Linked DNA regions of Homo sapiens. The protein of the gene in region 1 interacts with the protein of each later gene in a biochemical or structural test. Each region holds a gene or a part of one and is shown in the gene's direction. Other genes may lie near its edges. The genes, in order: CNST and GJC1.

What was found.
Region 2: the proteins of CNST (region 1) and GJC1 form a complex in vitro, tested with the Homo sapiens proteins (one study listed by BioGRID).

The regions. Positions count from the first base shown.
Region 1 is NC_000001.11:246,660,164-246,668,156, forward strand, and holds part of CNST (consortin), read left to right. Parts: intron 1-35; coding exon 36-171; intron 172-5,536; coding exon 5,537-5,742; 3' UTR 5,743-7,993. UniProt on the Homo sapiens protein: Required for targeting of connexins to the plasma membrane.
Region 2 is NC_000017.11:44,826,594-44,834,644, reverse strand, and holds the start of GJC1 (gap junction gamma-1 protein), read left to right. Parts: upstream 1-4,357; 5' UTR 4,358-4,583; intron 4,584-4,820; exon of another isoform or gene 4,821-5,133; intron 5,134-8,051. UniProt on the Homo sapiens protein: One gap junction consists of a cluster of closely packed pairs of transmembrane channels, the connexons, through which materials of low MW diffuse from one cell to a neighboring cell.

The DNA.
Region 1 (7,993 bases):
ATAAAAGAATTATAGGTTCTTATAATTTCTGACAGGTTGTTCCTACTGAAGGATTGGTCTCCATATTAAAGAAGAGGAATGATACTGTAGGAGATCATCCTGCCCAAATGCAACACAAACCATCTAAGCGAAGAGTGAGATTCCAAGAAATAGACGATAGCTTGGATCAAGGTAAACCGCTTGGCACTGTGGCTAGCAGGATAGATGCTCAGTGTTTGCTGAAAGGATGAGTTTGTGAATGATGTGACGTTTACTAACAGGATTTGTAAAAGACTATGTCCGCCAGGCACGGTGGCTCACACCTGTAATCCCAGCACTTTAGGAGGCTCAGGCGGGCAGATCACTTGAAATCAGGAGTTCGAGACAAGCCTGACCAACATGACAAAACCCTGTGTCCACTAAAATTAGAAAAATTAGCGAGTGTGGGGGTACGCGCCTGTAATCCCAGCTACTCAGGAGACTGAAGCAGGAGAATCGCTTGAACCCGGGAGACAGGTTACAGTGAGCCAAGAGCGTGCCACTGCACTTCAGCCTAGGTGGCAGAGCGAGGCTCCATCTCAAAAAATAAATATAAATAAGTAAATAAAAGAATATGTCAGTTTAGTTGCTTTATCTTCTAAGGGAGAAACATATAAAATCCAACTATCATCTTAAATCATTTCTAAATCTTTACTTGCTTAAATAAGTGAGCAAGCTGCAAAATTCAACTTGTGGCCTCCCTGTTCCATAGACAGTTAATGTTGAGAGCTTAGTTCAGTTTCCCTCTTTAGTACTTTTTGTGTGAGTCTGCTATTTTTGTCTTTTGTTGTTTTTTTGTTTTTTTTTTAAGACGGTCTTGCTCTGTCACCCAGGCTGGATTGCAGTGGCGCAAATCACTGCAACCTCAACCTCCACCTCCCAGGTTCAAGCAATTCTCCTGCCTCAGCCTCCTGAGTAGCTGGGCTTACAGGCACATGCCACCACGCCCGGCTAATTTTTGTATTTTTAGTGGAGACGGGGTTTCACCATGTTGGTCAGGCTGGTCTCAAACTCCTAACCTCATGAGGTTAGGATCTGCCTGCCTTGGCCTCCCAAAGTGCTAGGATTACAGGTGTGAGCCACCGCACCAGGCCCTGGCTAGTTTTCTGTATTTTTAGTAGAGATGAGGTTTTGCCATGTTGGCCAGGCTAGTCTCGAACTCCTGGCTTCAAGTGATCCACCCACCTCGGCCTCCCAAAGTGCTGGGATTACAGGCATGAGCCACCATGCCCGGCTTGTCTTCTTTTCAGTGGACAATTAATACTCCTCCTTTATTGTGGAAAATATTTATGAATATTCTCTTCAGTGATTTCCTCTTCATTGATAGAAAAGAGTGTCTCTCGAGAGCAGCAGTTTTACACCATTGCTGCTGTTTGACTTCTTCGTCCTGGGCCTGTCAAACTTAAGGCCCTGACTTGGTCTAACATGAGGTGGTGAGTTTTGTAGTGAACAATGCTGCCTTTTATGGTTGCAAATATGTTTATCTAAGGTGTAAGTAAATAAGAGTAAATGGAAAGGTAACCCAGAACCTGTCAGTGGGCTTCTCATATTCATAAAACAACTGCATTGTTAAAATAACAGTGTAAATATTTAGGTATGCTTTCTGGGTGTGACATAAGTGATAACAGTAGAGGTTTCTGCATTTTTACAATTAGAAAGCTGGTTAGGGGGCCTTAGAAATAATGTCCTAACCCCTGATTTTACTTCTGCACCTTGCTTGTAACTCTCACAGTCTTCTCCAGATAAGGTGCTCACTTCTGTTTGCACTAATTTGACCAAATCGTTCCTTAATAGGAGGAACCCCGGATTTGAAACTCACAGTCTGCATTTCACTTTGTAGCCACCTCATCTTAAACTAAGTCACTTACTTGTAGGAGACTGAGTTCCATCATCTTTAAAATAAGGAGAATAACATCTGCCTCTCTGTCCCTATTGAAAAGCGTGTCAGATAATATGTATAAATTCATTTTGAGAATTATAAAACTAAATGTAAATGTTGATTGTGTTGGTTTGTTCCTAAGCTCTGTGACTTACACGGTGTTTTCATAAACCTCACCTTCTGCCAAAATCTTCCTAAAAGGGCCTGTTCTTCCTTCTGTAAGCCAATGCTATCCCCTGGAAATTAATGTGAGGCACATGTATGATTTTCAGCTTTGTAGTAGCCATGTTAAAGTGAAAAGAAACAGGTGAGATGAATTTTATTTTTTATTTGATTTTATTTTTTTTGAGACGGGATCTCACTCTGTCGCCCGGCTGGAGTGCAGTGGTGCGATCTTGGCTCGCTGCAACCTCCGCCTCCCGAGTTCAAGCGATTCTTCTGCCTCAGCCTCCCAGGTAGCTGGGATTACAGGCATGTTCCCCGACGCCTGGCTAATTTTTGTACTTTTAGTAGAGACAGGGGGTTTCACCATGTTGGCCAGGCTGGTCTCGAACTCCTGACCTCAGGTGATCTGCCTGCCTCGGCCTCCCAAAGTGCTGGGATTACAGGCGTGAGCCACCGCACCTGGCCAGAATTTTAAGAATGTATTTTATTTAACCCAGTACATAAAAATTATTTCAAAATGTGATCTATATGAAAAAATTACTAGTGAGACATTTTACATCCTTTTTTTCACACTAAGTATTCAGAATCTGTGTTCATCGCCGCTCAGTTTGGACCAGCTACATGTCAAGTGCCCAACAGCCACCTGTGGCTCACATCGGACAGTACAGCTCAGACAGGTCTAGGACATATAAATAAAACAAACAGCATAGATGCTTTTACATATTTAAGCTATATTTAAATGTTTGGATTTGAATATATGATAATGAAGAAAAATACTTTAGGTTGTTAACATAGATGAAGTGGGGGTAGGAATCATGTTAAGAAAAGCACGTAAGGCATGGTGCAGTGGCTCACACCTGTCATCCCAGCACTTGGGGAAGCCTCCTCCCAAGTCTTCCTCCTGGATCACTCGAGGCCAGGAGTTGGAGACCAGCCTGGGCAAACATGGCAAGACCCCATCTCTACAAAAAATACAGAAATTAGCAGGGCATGGTGGTGTGTGCACCTTTGGTCCCAGCTACTTGGGAGGCTGAGATGGGAGGATCGCTTGAGCCCAGGAGGTTGAGGCTGCAGTGAGTGTGGCCTGGTGACAGAGCACAACCCTATGTCTAAAAAAAAAAAAAAAAGAAAGACAAGACCGAACTGTCCAAAAAAATACAGCATGATTAATATGATCCTATTTCTTCATTTATATAAAAGACATATTTTCATACATAGGTATAAACTATTTTAGACTGGGCGTGGTGGCTTATGCCTGTAATCCCAGCACTTTGGGAGGCCAAGGCGGGCAAATCACCTGAGGTCAGGAGTTTGAGACCAGCCTGGCCAATATGGTGAAACCCCATCTCTATAACAATACAAAAAGTAGCCAGGCATGATGGCAGGTGCCTGTAATCTCAGCTACCCAGGAGGCTGAGGCAGGAGAATTGCTTGAACCCAGGAGGCAGAGGTTGCAGTGAGCCAAGATCACACCATTGCACTCTAGCCTGGGCAACAAGAACAAGACTCTGTCTCAAAAAAAAAAACAACTATTTTAAAATGTAAATTTCAGAGCAAACAATTTTTTAATCCTATTTTGATGTAAGTCCTGAAATCATACGTGTTTGATCTGAAATGACACACACCAAATTTAACAGTGTTTACCTCTGGGATGGGAAGGAAATATGATTGGGCGGGAGAAAAACGGATAGTCCCTTAGACTCTAAGATGCTTTTGGGGTTGCGTTTTTACAGGGAGAATATATTCATGTATTACTGCACAATGTTCTAAATAAAGTCTATTTGGTATCCATTAGGTTTTGTAAAATTTGTTTCTTGTAAAAATATATGCTAATTATGAAAAAAATCAGTTTAATAAAGTAAAAATTAAATCATGAGTCTTAGACATCCTTCAATGAAAGAACATATTAAATTTACTTCATTCTATTAAATACTTACATCATATTCCATTATATAAATGTCCCATAATTGTTTAACTGTTCCATTGTAACCAGAACCACTAAGTTATTCCCAGCCTTTTGTTATAACAAACCCTGCTGCAGTGAACAAGCTTGTATATATGATATTTGTTGTGCAGAACTGTAGCCTAATTCTTAAAGGTGGATTTGCTGGGATATGTTGAAACTATATGTCCCAGGTGGCCTGAGGCCGTCCTGGTTTACACCTGTTGTCCCGGAATTGCATTCAGTTAACACTGTCTTTTTTTCTTTTTTTTTTTTTGAGAAGGAGTCTCGCCCTGTGGCCCAGGCTGGAGTGCAGTGGTGTGATCTCAGCTCACTGCAACCTCCGCCTCCCAGGTTCATGCCATTCTCCTGCCTCAGCCTCCTGAGTAGCTGAGACTATAGGCACCTGCCACCACGCCCAGCTGATTTTTTATATTTTTAGTAGAGACGGGGTTTCACCGTGTCAGCCAGGATGGTCTCGATCTCCTGACCTCGTGATCCGCCCGCCTCAGCCTCCCAAAGTGCTGGGATTACAGGCGTGAGCCACCACACCCAGCCTTAACACTGTCTTTTACTCTCAAAATTGTCCAGTCTGTAGGATAAATTAATTTTAAATTTTAATAGATACTGCCAAATTACCTTCCAAAAAGGCATTCCTACACTTTAATCATGCTGCAGATCAGAAGACTTTTTGGTCTTTTTGAAATTAAAATTTTTTTTAAATTATGAATAATTAAGATATTTTTCAACCAAAGAATGATTGTTTTCTTCAATATAGAAAGATGCAAAAGAGATCCCACCCAAAGGCATTTTTATTGTTTAATATTAAGTCGACTTTGCTCTCAGGTAGTCCCATTATGTGAACCCCAAGGATCTTAGAACAGCCAGGCTGTACTGTAGACTGTCAAATAATGCTGTCGGGGTGGGCATGCTGGCTCACACCTGTAATCCCAGTACTTTGAGAGGCCATGACATGAAGATAACTTGAGGCCAGGAGTTCAAGACCACCCTCTGCAGCATAGTGAGACCCCATCTCTACCAAAAAATAAAAAATAAATAGCCAGGCATGGTGGCACAGGCCTGTAGTCCTAGCTGCTCAGGAGGCTGAGGCAGGAGGACTACTTGAGCCCAGGTGTCAGGGCTGCAGTGAGCCAAGATTTTGCCACTGCACTTCAGCCAGGGTGACAAAGTGAGACCCTGTCTCTAAAAAACAAACAAAAATGAATGAATTCATTAATGCGTGCTATGAGCACGTGAGCTGTTTTTCTTCTTCTCATGGAGTGATTCTGTCCATTGTATAAATGAGCTAGTTTTAATTTTAGCTTGTACAAGCTCCACAAGTCTGAATCTTCTTGGTATTTAATAGGTAGGTCTTTGTAGAGTCATTAGCAGCATGAGTTTTCTGTCAATACTTCCTATCCGTAGAGGACCAACAGTAGAAATGTGTAGTTATCTTAATTAGTGAAAAGACAGCAGATGCTAAGATTTCCATTTCGGTGACAATGTAACCTCACTCTTTCTCATGTTTGCAGATGAAGTTGGAGGTGGCTCCTGTATTTTGCTGGTCTTGCTGTGCATAGCAACGGTTTTCCTCAGTGTTGGAGGAACTGCATTATACTGCACTTTCGGTGACATGGAGTCACCTGTTTGTACTGACTTTGCAGACAACATGGACTTCTATTACACTAAGTTACTTCAGGGAGTGGCAGAACTGAAGCACTGGATCTACCTCTCCTAGCAGCATTCCAGACACAGACATGCTGGCAGTGAGAGTGAAAGGCGGGAGACTTTCTAAACAGTTTTTCTTTCAGGAATTCTGTAGCATTCCCCCTTCCCTCTGTTAGGAACCAAGGACATCAGAAATAGCAACTTTAAGTGGCAAGCCGGAGGAACTCTGTTAGAATAATCCACACAGTGAGGCAAATATCAATCTAAGCATTGTGGATGGAAGGAATGGTCTTTGGAGAGAGCATATCCATCTCCTCCTCACTGCCTCCTAATGTCATGAGGTACACTGAGCAGAATTAAACAGGGTAGTCTTAACCACACTATTTTTAGCTACCTTGTCAAGCTAATGGTTAAAGAACACTTTTGGTTTACACTTGTTGGGTCATAGAAGTTGCTTTCCGCCATCACGCAATAAGTTTGTGTGTAATCAGAAGGAGTTACCTTATGGTTTCAGTGTCATTCTTTAGTTAACTTGGGAGCTGTGTAATTTAGGCTTTGCGTATTATTTCACTTCTGTTCTCCACTTATGAAGTGATTGTGTGTTTGCGTGTGTGTGCGTGCGCATGTGCTTCCGGCAGTTAACATAAGCAAATACCCAACATCACAAAGATGATCTTTCTTCTTTTAACTTGATGATGATGTGCAGGCACAAATCTTTGGAGAAGGCTTAACTGTGGAATAGATGAATTCTAGAACTCTTGACCCTGCAATGAGAAACTGTGACAGATCTGTGTCAATTAACTTGATTAGCCAGAAATTAATCACAGGCCTAGAGACCAAAGAAAAAGCTCCCCTGAGTCTCAGGCAACAGTTTTGTCACGGATGCAAAGCTTCCTGAAATCATGAATGCTGGACTCAGTTTGGCAAACGCTTACACCTATTATGTTCTGAGATTCTGAGAACCAGAATGCAAACTTAAGTAAGATACAGTTCCCACTGTAGGTGTTTTAATCCTGGTCTTATATAGAATAAACCAGTACTTTGCTGAGTGAAATCACCATATAGAATTCAGTATTAACAGATCATGCATTCAGATGCTTGAATGTGCATTCTTGTTGTGGGCTTGATTTAGATCCTATTGCGGGGTCATTACGCAAAAATTCAATCATACCTTCCATAGACAAATGTCTGATTTTTGTTTAAATCTGTCCGTTAGGTGGCCTTTCCTTATCTGAGGTGTAGTGGTCTAACATTTAGGAAGCCTTGCTTTGACTTTATCGGGCAGCATTAAAAAAAAAACAACAAAGAAAAACCAAACATGAATTATAGTTTTTAACAAGTGATCTTTATTTCCTGTCTTCTGTTAGGATCATTTGAAAGAAAAAGGGAGAACTTACTTTCTAGTTGTTACTGGCTGGCACAGTACCTCCCTTTGTGTTTCTGCTTATTTATTTAGATTATGTGAATCTTAAAGGGCTTTTTATATCAGTTGAAAGTGTGTTACTGCGCATGCATTTGGTGATTCCAGTGCTAGATATTTAATTACTGTGTATTTAGTGTTTTGATTTTCTATAATTTCAGTTCCGCGTGTTTTTACACTTGTTCATTTTAAATTGATGTTTCATTTTCACTTATAATACTGTTTGACTTGTCTCTATCATGTCACCATAAACTGTAATATTTTCAAGGGTTATAGATCAAAGATATTTATTTAGAAATGTACAAGATAATGAAATTTAGATTCCTTATACTTAAGGCTGATTTTATTAGAAGATTATTTTAATGTTCTATTATAAATTTTAAGAATTTGTATTCAAATTGTATGTAAAATATGTAAAATGTTGACGGTACTATATTAAGTGGTTCTATAAAAGCTATTCACAAGTTCTACTGTGATGGACATCCTCATCATAGACAAACCTCCTCTGTTTTATCCTCAATTTCTAGTTACAGAAATTTGGTGATGCTTATTTTTGCCAATTTTATGTCAAAATAAGTTAAAACTTCCCTCCTGTTCACCTCTTGGGTCTCTATCCTGTGTAACCTCTGGTGTAGTATTTGCCCATAGGCAACCAGAGCCACTTCCTCTGAACCCAACATCTCCTGGGGACCTTCGCAGCAAGAGGAAAGCACTGAGACAATAGCTTGCTAAGCAGGGGCCCAGTGGTGTCTCAGAGAAACCATGGGTGTCCTCGCCACTTCCCAGGGAGGGTGAGGTGAGCTCGGGAACATAACGATGTTTTGACTTACAATAGGCATGAAATCGCAACTAGAAAAATTAGGGCAGTTTTTAAAAATGTCATAGTTATCTATTGCATGAA
Region 2 (8,051 bases), on another chromosome or scaffold:
GTTGCCCCAAGCTGCAGTGCAATGGCATGATCTCAGCTCACTGCAACCTCTGCCTCCCAGGTTCAAGCAATTCTCCTGCCTCAGCCTCCTGAGTAGCTGGGATTACAGGCATGCGCCACCACACCCATCTAATTTTTTGTATTTTTAGTAGAAATGGGTTTTCACCATGTTAGCCAGGCTGGTCTTGAACTCCTGACCTTAGGTGATCTGCTCCCCTCGGCCTCCCAGAGTGCTGGGATTACAGGCGTGAGCCACCGCGCCTGGCCAACTGTCCCTACTTCTAACGGCATGGATTAGTTTTGCTTGTTTTTTTTTTTTGTTGTTGTTGTTTTGTTTTTTTTTAAACGCGGTCTTGCTCTGTAACCCAGGCTGGAGTGCAGTGGTGCAGTGGTTCAGTGGCACAATCACAGCTCACTGCAGCCTCAACTTCCCCAGCTCAAGTGATCTTCCCACCTCACCACCTCAGCCTCTGGAGTAGCTGAGACTCCAGGCACATGCAACCATGCCTGGCTAATTTTTGTATTTTTTGTAGAGGTAAGGTTTTGCCATGTTGCTAAGGCTGGTCTTGAACTACTGAGCTCAAGTGATCCGCCCACCTTGGCCTCCCTAAGCGCTGGGATAACAGGCATGAGCCACAGCACCTGGCCAGTTTTGTCTGTTTTTGAAGTTTTTGTAAATGAAAACTTTTGTGAGATCCATCTTATGTGTAAATGTAGATTGTTCATTTTCATTGCAGCATAATGTACGTAACACAATTTAGCCATTCTACGGTTGACAGGCATTTTGGGTAGTTTCTAGTTTTTTGACTTATTATAAATAGTGCTGCTATGAATACTCTAGTACAAGTATTTTGGTGAACATTTGTACACATTTTCGTGGAATTGCCATGGAATTCCAAAGGCATAGTGTATTCATAGGTTCAGCTTTAGTAGTGTAGTGGCGGAAAGGTGTGACACCTTTCCTCATCCATCATAAGGATCACAGCTGACACTCCTATAACAAAACCCAGATTAACAAGAGAAGGGCATAACCAAGTTATTTAACCAAAGTTTTATGTAACACAAGAGACTTCGGAAATTAAGACCTCAAAGGGCCGAGTGCGGTGGCTCACACCTGTAATCCCAGCACTTTGGGAGGCCTAGGCGGGTGGATCACGAGGTCAGGAGTTCAAGACCAGCCTCACCAACATAGTGAAAACCAGTCTCTACTAAAAATACAAAAAAAATTAGCCGGGCGTGGTGGTGTGCGCCTGTAGTCCCAGCTGCTTGGGAGGCTGAGGCATGAGAATCAGTTGAACCTGGGAGGCGGAGGTTGCAGTGAGCCGAGATCATGCCACTGCACTCCAGCCTGGGTGATGGAGAGAGACCCGGTCTCTCTCTCTCTCTCTCTCACACACACACACACACACACACACACACACCCTCAATACCCTAGAACAATTGTTTTTATGCTTAGGTTCAATGCAGAATGGACAAGCAGAATGTGATCAGACAAAAGGGGTATGATCTAATTTAACAGACTGAGCGGGGAACCCAACAAGGCTTGTCGGTTCAAATTCTTCTTGGCTTCCCAGTGTAACATTCCTTCCTCCAGGGTATTCCTTCCTGGTTCCTCTGGAATGAGGGTCTTCAAGGGGGAGGAGAGAAGGGGGAGAGTGACCTTTCTGGTTTTATGGCTTGCTTTGGGGGAGAGGGGTTCTAGTTTCTATGACCCGCCTTGGGGAAGAGGAATTTTTATTTCTATGACTCGCTTCAGGGGAGAAAGGGGCGGGAGACAGGAGGGCAGGAGAAGGTCAGAGAGAGACTTTGCTTCTGAGGCCTTCCAATCTCCTTTAGTTCAAAGCACTCAGCACGCCAAAGCTCCATACTTTGGGATATTGTTTTCTTTCTTTCTTTTTTAAAGAGATGGGGTCTCGCTCTGTCTTCCAGGCTGGAGTGTAGTGGCATAATCATAGCCCACTGCAGTTTCCTGAGTAGCTGGGACTACAGCCACCACGCCCTGGGAAATCATTTTCTGAGCCTCAACAGTAGATATTGCCAGTTTTGCAAAGTCCGCTGGGCACGGTGGCTCATGTCTGTAATCCCAGCTCTTTGGGAGGCCAAGGCGGGCAGATCACTTGAGGTCAGGATTTGAGACCAGCCTGGCCAACATGGTGAAACCCCCTTTCTACTAAAAATACAAAAATTAGCCAGGCATGATGGCGGGCACCTGTATTCCCAGCTACTCCGGAGGCTGAGGTAGTAGAATCTTTTGAACCTGGGAGGCGGACATCGCAGTGAGCCGAGATCACCCCACTGCACTCCAGCGTGGGCGACAGAGTGAGACTCTGTTGCAAAAACAACAACAAAGTGATTTAGGCCAGGCACGGTGGCTCATGCCTGTAATCCCAGCACTTTGGGAGGCCGAGGCAGGCGGATCACAAGGTCAGGAGATCGAGACCATCCTGGCCAACATGGTGAAACCCTGTCTCTACTAAAAATACAAAAATTAGTTGGGCGTGGTTGCGTGCGCCTGTAGTCCCAGCTACTCGGGAGGCTGAGGCAGGAGAATTGCTTGAACCGGGGAGGTGGAGCTTGCAGTGAGCCTAGATGGCGCCCACTGCACTCCAGCCTGGCGACAGAGTGAGACTCTCCCTCAAAACAAAACAAAACAAAAAAGTTATTTGTACTAGTTTACAGTTGCAGGCTGTGAGAATTTTAATATTTTATTCAACAGGTACAATGATGTTGTTTCCTGTGTTATTTTAGTTACATGCTATTTATTATTTCCAGGTATTTTCAGAGTTTTCACCCTGGTCATTTTATTTTTTTCACTTATTTTTTTGAGACAGGGTCTCACTCTGTCGCTCAGGCTGGAGTGCAGTGGCGCTATCTCAGCTTACTGCAGCCTTGACCTCCCGGGCTCAAGCGATCCTCCCACCTCATGCTTGGAGTAGCTAGGATCACAGGTGCGCGTCACCACACCCGGCTAATTTTTGTATTTTTTGTAGAGATGGGGGTTTTGCCATATTGTCCAGGCTGGTCTGGAACCCCAGGGCTCAAGCAATCCGCCTGCCTAGGCCTCCCAAAGTGCTGGAATTACAGGCGTGAGCCACCGCGCCCATCCCACACTTGTCATTTTAAATACATCTGTAGAGAGGCAATGTGATAAGGCGTGGGGACAGACTACAGCAATCACAGGGAGAAGTACTTAAATGCTCCGAGGCCAAGCAGGTCATGAAATGATTTAAGCAGCTGAGTGGGGACATTGCCTACCCGGACAAGGTGACTCAAGAGGAGCTGCCATGTGAAAAGAGAAGCTCAAAGTAAGCAGCTTTTGACTTTTTAGGGAGGCCAGAAATCTGGATTTTAATATTTTGGTAACTAATTCATATTTTTGGAAAACATACTGGCCACACAAAACTGGTCAGTGCATTAGATGCCTAGCCTTCAAGATTTCCACTCTGGGGCTACCCCTTAGGGCTTGGCTTTGGGTGGGGGAGTTTGACTTGCAGCAAGTAACCTCACTTGTTAGCGCTTAATTTCCCCTCTGGTCAAAAGGGCAAAATAATAAAAGCCTGTCCATCGGCATTCTGATGCTCAGATGAGATCATTCCAGAGGTCGCCCATCTCTTTACTGAGCCTTCCTTTATTACCCAAAGTCTTACTCTACTTAAAGCATTTGGAGAATTTTCGGTTTCCTACTGGGCATTTTAAAACTGGGGATTCCTATGCATGAAAATTTTTCCCAAGTCCTCTGAATGGGATCCTGCTGGGATGCAAAGAGTTAAGAGGAAATAGCCTATTAGGGTCTTGCTAATCCGAGAAGTTCAGGACCTGAAAAGTATCTAGAGCACTGCTAAGAGCCCCGACTCTAGCTAGATCCACGCAGGGCCCGCCAGATCCTCGAGGAATTGTAGAGCAGAACCTGGGAGGAGACATTAGCATCCCGTGCTACAATGGACCAAGGCCTCGGCGGAGCGCGCAGAAGACAACTCTGGGCCCGCTAAACCAACCCAGGATACCCAGGTAAGGCGAGAACCCACGGCGCCGTTAGCGGCCCGCTCAAACTGAGGCGCGGCTGGCGGGGGACTCTCGCCCGAAAATCAGCTTGGAAGAATGAACTGTCCGGAGCGAAGTCTGCGCCCACCCGGGGTCCAGACTCCACGCGGGTGACTCCCACGCGCGCCGCGCCTCCGCCGCGTCCCGGACTATCCGAGAGAGCGGCGAGGACTCGACCGCGGAAAGTTGGCGCTCGCGTCGCTTCCCGCGCGTTCTGGGGCGCCCCCCTCCCACTCGAGCGCCACGTGCCGCGCGCCCCCCGCTCCCGGGCCGCGGCGGGACGCCCCCGCCCCCACCGCAGCGCGCAGTGCGCAGGCGCCTTCCCGCGGGTCGCGGCGGCGGGAGCGGGAGGCGGCGGCGGCGGCGGCAGCGGCGGGAGCGGCTTCTGCCTCGGCTGGAGACTGAGGCGAAGGCGGCAGCGGCGGAGGAGGTGGAGGAGAGGCGAGGGTGAAGGCGATGGCGACGCGGGGCACATGAGGCCGCGACCGGCGGGACGGGCCGAGGCCCGGCGGAGGAGGCGGCTCCGGGGGAACCCGCCGCCGGGTGAGGGGCGGCCGCAGGGCCGGCTGAGGAGAAGCGGGCCAGGGGCGGGGTCCCAGGGGGAGGCGGGAGAACTCTTGGGGAGCCCGGGGAGGGGCCGAGGAGAACCTCCGGAGGTCCGGGGAGGAGCGCGGCCAGAGCGGGAGAAGGAGGGGGGCGCCGCCGAGGGGTTCCCGCCGAGTCCGGAGGGGCGTCGCCGGCCCGCGTCCTGCCACTGTCCCCGGCGCACCCTCCCTCTTTGTCCCCAGGCGCGCGGCTCCCAAATCGGGAGGGAAACGGCTCGGGGGTGTCCTGGGCCGCGGAGGTGTCGGGCGACGGTCGGGGAGCCCGGACAGAAGCGGCGCGCACTCGGCGGCGCCCCGGCGGTGCCGACAACTACCCGGGCGGTTAGGGGCGCAGGGCGGAGCCGGGCCGCCCCTCGCCGCCCGGGCTCTTCGCGGGCTGCTCTTTGTCTCCCCGACCTCGATCCCTGCGTCTCCGGCGGCGTGCGGGCTCGTCTGAGGCTTCCCGCATCTCCCCGCTGGAACTCCTGCCTCCCGGGGGTTAGAGGAGGGTTCGTTCGAGGGCTGGAAGCGGGAAAGCGGGGCGGAAGGACTGGGCTCATCGCCTCCTGATTAACTCGTTGTCTTTACTTAAAATGACTTTTCCCCCACTTTGTCAAACTTGAGAACTGTTTTGTGTGTGTGTGTGTTTCCTTAAGTCTCTAGCTTCAAAATTAAGAGTAGGCGCTACCGCTGTGATTGTGGGCAGTTGTGTGGTTGGCGGCTGCGTTTGGAGCTCTGAGTTGAAAAGATGTACGTGAATGTATGGTTTAGATTTTGTTCTTTTTTTTGCGATTGTCTGATTGGGAGTACTTTTCCTTTGCGAAATGGGCGAATTTGGTTTTCTTTTTGTTCATTGAGAACTGGCAGTGATACCGATTTCATTATGCTCATGCTTAATTTTGTTAGCATCAAGACGATGTGAAATCGAGTAAGTTAAGTTTGAATAAGTTCAGGCTGAGGGTCATCTTGTATGCCTGATAAGTCTAAATTTGTTATATGTTTGTGTCGTGTATACGTTCAAGTGAATATATGTGAAAGCGCTATAAAAAATCAAACTACATAAATGAAAGGGATTTTAATTTCCTGATAAGCAGGAAACAGCATATCTCCAGTACTTTAATATCTGTAGAAAAATGCGTTAATAATGTCATTTAGGAATAAAATATTTCTCTCCCTAGAGAGGGTTTAGGTATTATTCAGAGTAAAAGAGCAAAAAAATTTCAACCTCAGAGGGTATGGAAAAAAACAGAAAAATACCCTTACTTCCAGAGCTCCTGATTAAAATATTGTGAGTTGTGGGTTAAGTTTACTGATTTAAAAAAAACTTAGCATAGAGTTGTATCACTGCAGTTGCTTTGAATGTCTTAAGTACTGTGTAATGTCAGAATTAAACACGAACTAACTTTTCTGGGTAGAAGGTAAAAAGCTCCAATAAACAGATCTTAGTTTTCCCCAGATTTTTGTGCCCAGAGTGCTGTAGGCAAAGGGCATATTGAAGAGATACATAGAAGTTGTATGGAAGGTCTGTTAATATTTGTCCTGATTTGTAATGGCTTAATATTATTTACTACTTAAACTGTTGTGCATTTTTCCAAAGCATTTCAAACAACCTCTTCAAAAGCCAGCACTTTTAACTTTTGAGGTTGTGTGACTTAAGAATTGTTTTCTACCAGAAACAGTTCTCTTAAAAAGTTCTACCACAGTTCTCTTAAAAAGGAGCAAAGGACCTGGTAATTTTCTCTGTAATCAATTCATGCAGGTAAAATTGAGTTTTAGCCTTTAATCCAGAGGACTTAATTAACATATCTCCAGCATAACAATCTTACTTATAAATGCTGTTATCCTTTGTCAATTAAATTTTATTCTTATATTTGTATAAGTCAGCCAAAGGGAAGGAATGCAGGGTTGTGTTTCTGATTAGTCCACTTCCCCCCAGGTCCAGGCTTGCCTATCAATTGAGTAATGAGGATCTTAGAATACAGGATATATAATTTAAATCCAGAGCATCGTTCTCTTAACAAATGCTTAGTGTTTGTTCCATGCCTAATTCAATGCAAAGTGATGAGTTCCAAAAAATATTGCTTTATTTGTTGTATGTTCACATTTCAAAATTGGTGAGGTGTGTTCTTTTTTCTTTTTCCTTTTCCTTTTTTTTTTGAGATGGAGTCTTGCTCTGTCGCCCAGGCTAGAGTGCAGTGGCTGGGACTACAGGTACCCGCCACCACGCCTGGCTAATTTTTTTTTGTAGTTTTAGCAGAGATGGGGTTTCACCATGTTAGCCATGATGGTCCCGATCTCCTGACCTTGTGATCCTCCCGCCTCGGCCTCCCAGAGTGCTGGGATTACAGGCGTGAGCCACCGTGCCCGGCCATCCTTTTTTTTTTCAAAGACATTGCTATGATGCCCAGGCTGTCATAGTACACTGCAGCCTCAAATTCCTGGGCTCAAGCCATCCTCCTGCCTCAGCCTCCTGAGTATACCCAGCTAATTTCTTTTTTCTCCTCCTTTCCTGTCCTGTCCTGTCCTTCCTTCCTATAGTTAAGTTTGACTAGGGGGTATGATTACTTATTTCTGAACTTATGCTTTTCTTGTAGTGTAGAAATACATGTGGCTTCTGTTCAAAATATTTGATAAAAATTTAGGCAAAGAAAAAGCAGGAATTTTTTTTTTTTGTTTGTTTGTTTTTGAGACGGAGTTTAGCTCTTATTGCCCAGGCTGGAGTGCAATGGTGCTATCTTGTCTCACTGCAACGGTGCTATCTTGTCTCACTGCAACCTCCGCCTCCCGAGTTCAAGTGATTCTCATGCCTCAGCCTCCCAAGTAGCTGGGATTACAGGAATGCCCCACCATGCCCAGCTAATTTTGTATTTTTTAGTAGAGACGGGGTTTCACCATGTTGGTCAGGCTGGTCTCCAACTCTTGACATTAGGTGATCCGCCTGCCTCTGCCTTCCAGAGTGCTGGGATTACAGGTGTGAGCCACCGCACTCGACCAGATTATTAGTTTTGTAAGACCGTTCCTTTGAGAATAGGTATGAGAAGATAGATTTTGGCTGATATCGTTAACCTGAAATTTAGACATAGAAAACAGTTCTGAGCTGTTAATATCAGCTGAATGGCAACAGTTGTTTTTCAACATACTGCTACAGCTGATGAGTTCAGTTTGTGTTGAAATAAGAACCTAGTAAAATGTATTTTTAAAAATATTTTTTAAGATTTAAATACAAATAATTTTAAATACAAAAAACTAGCTGGGCGTTTGAGCATTGCTATTTACTGCAACTCTAAAGAGTGAATGACCTGTTAGTCAGTACTGGCTGGCATACAGTTATACATTCTTGAATTTTACAAGTACTGTAGTTGGCTGAGAGCAGTCCTTGGCAATAAAGGTTTATCTTTCAGACCTGTGGAATATATTGCCCAAAGAG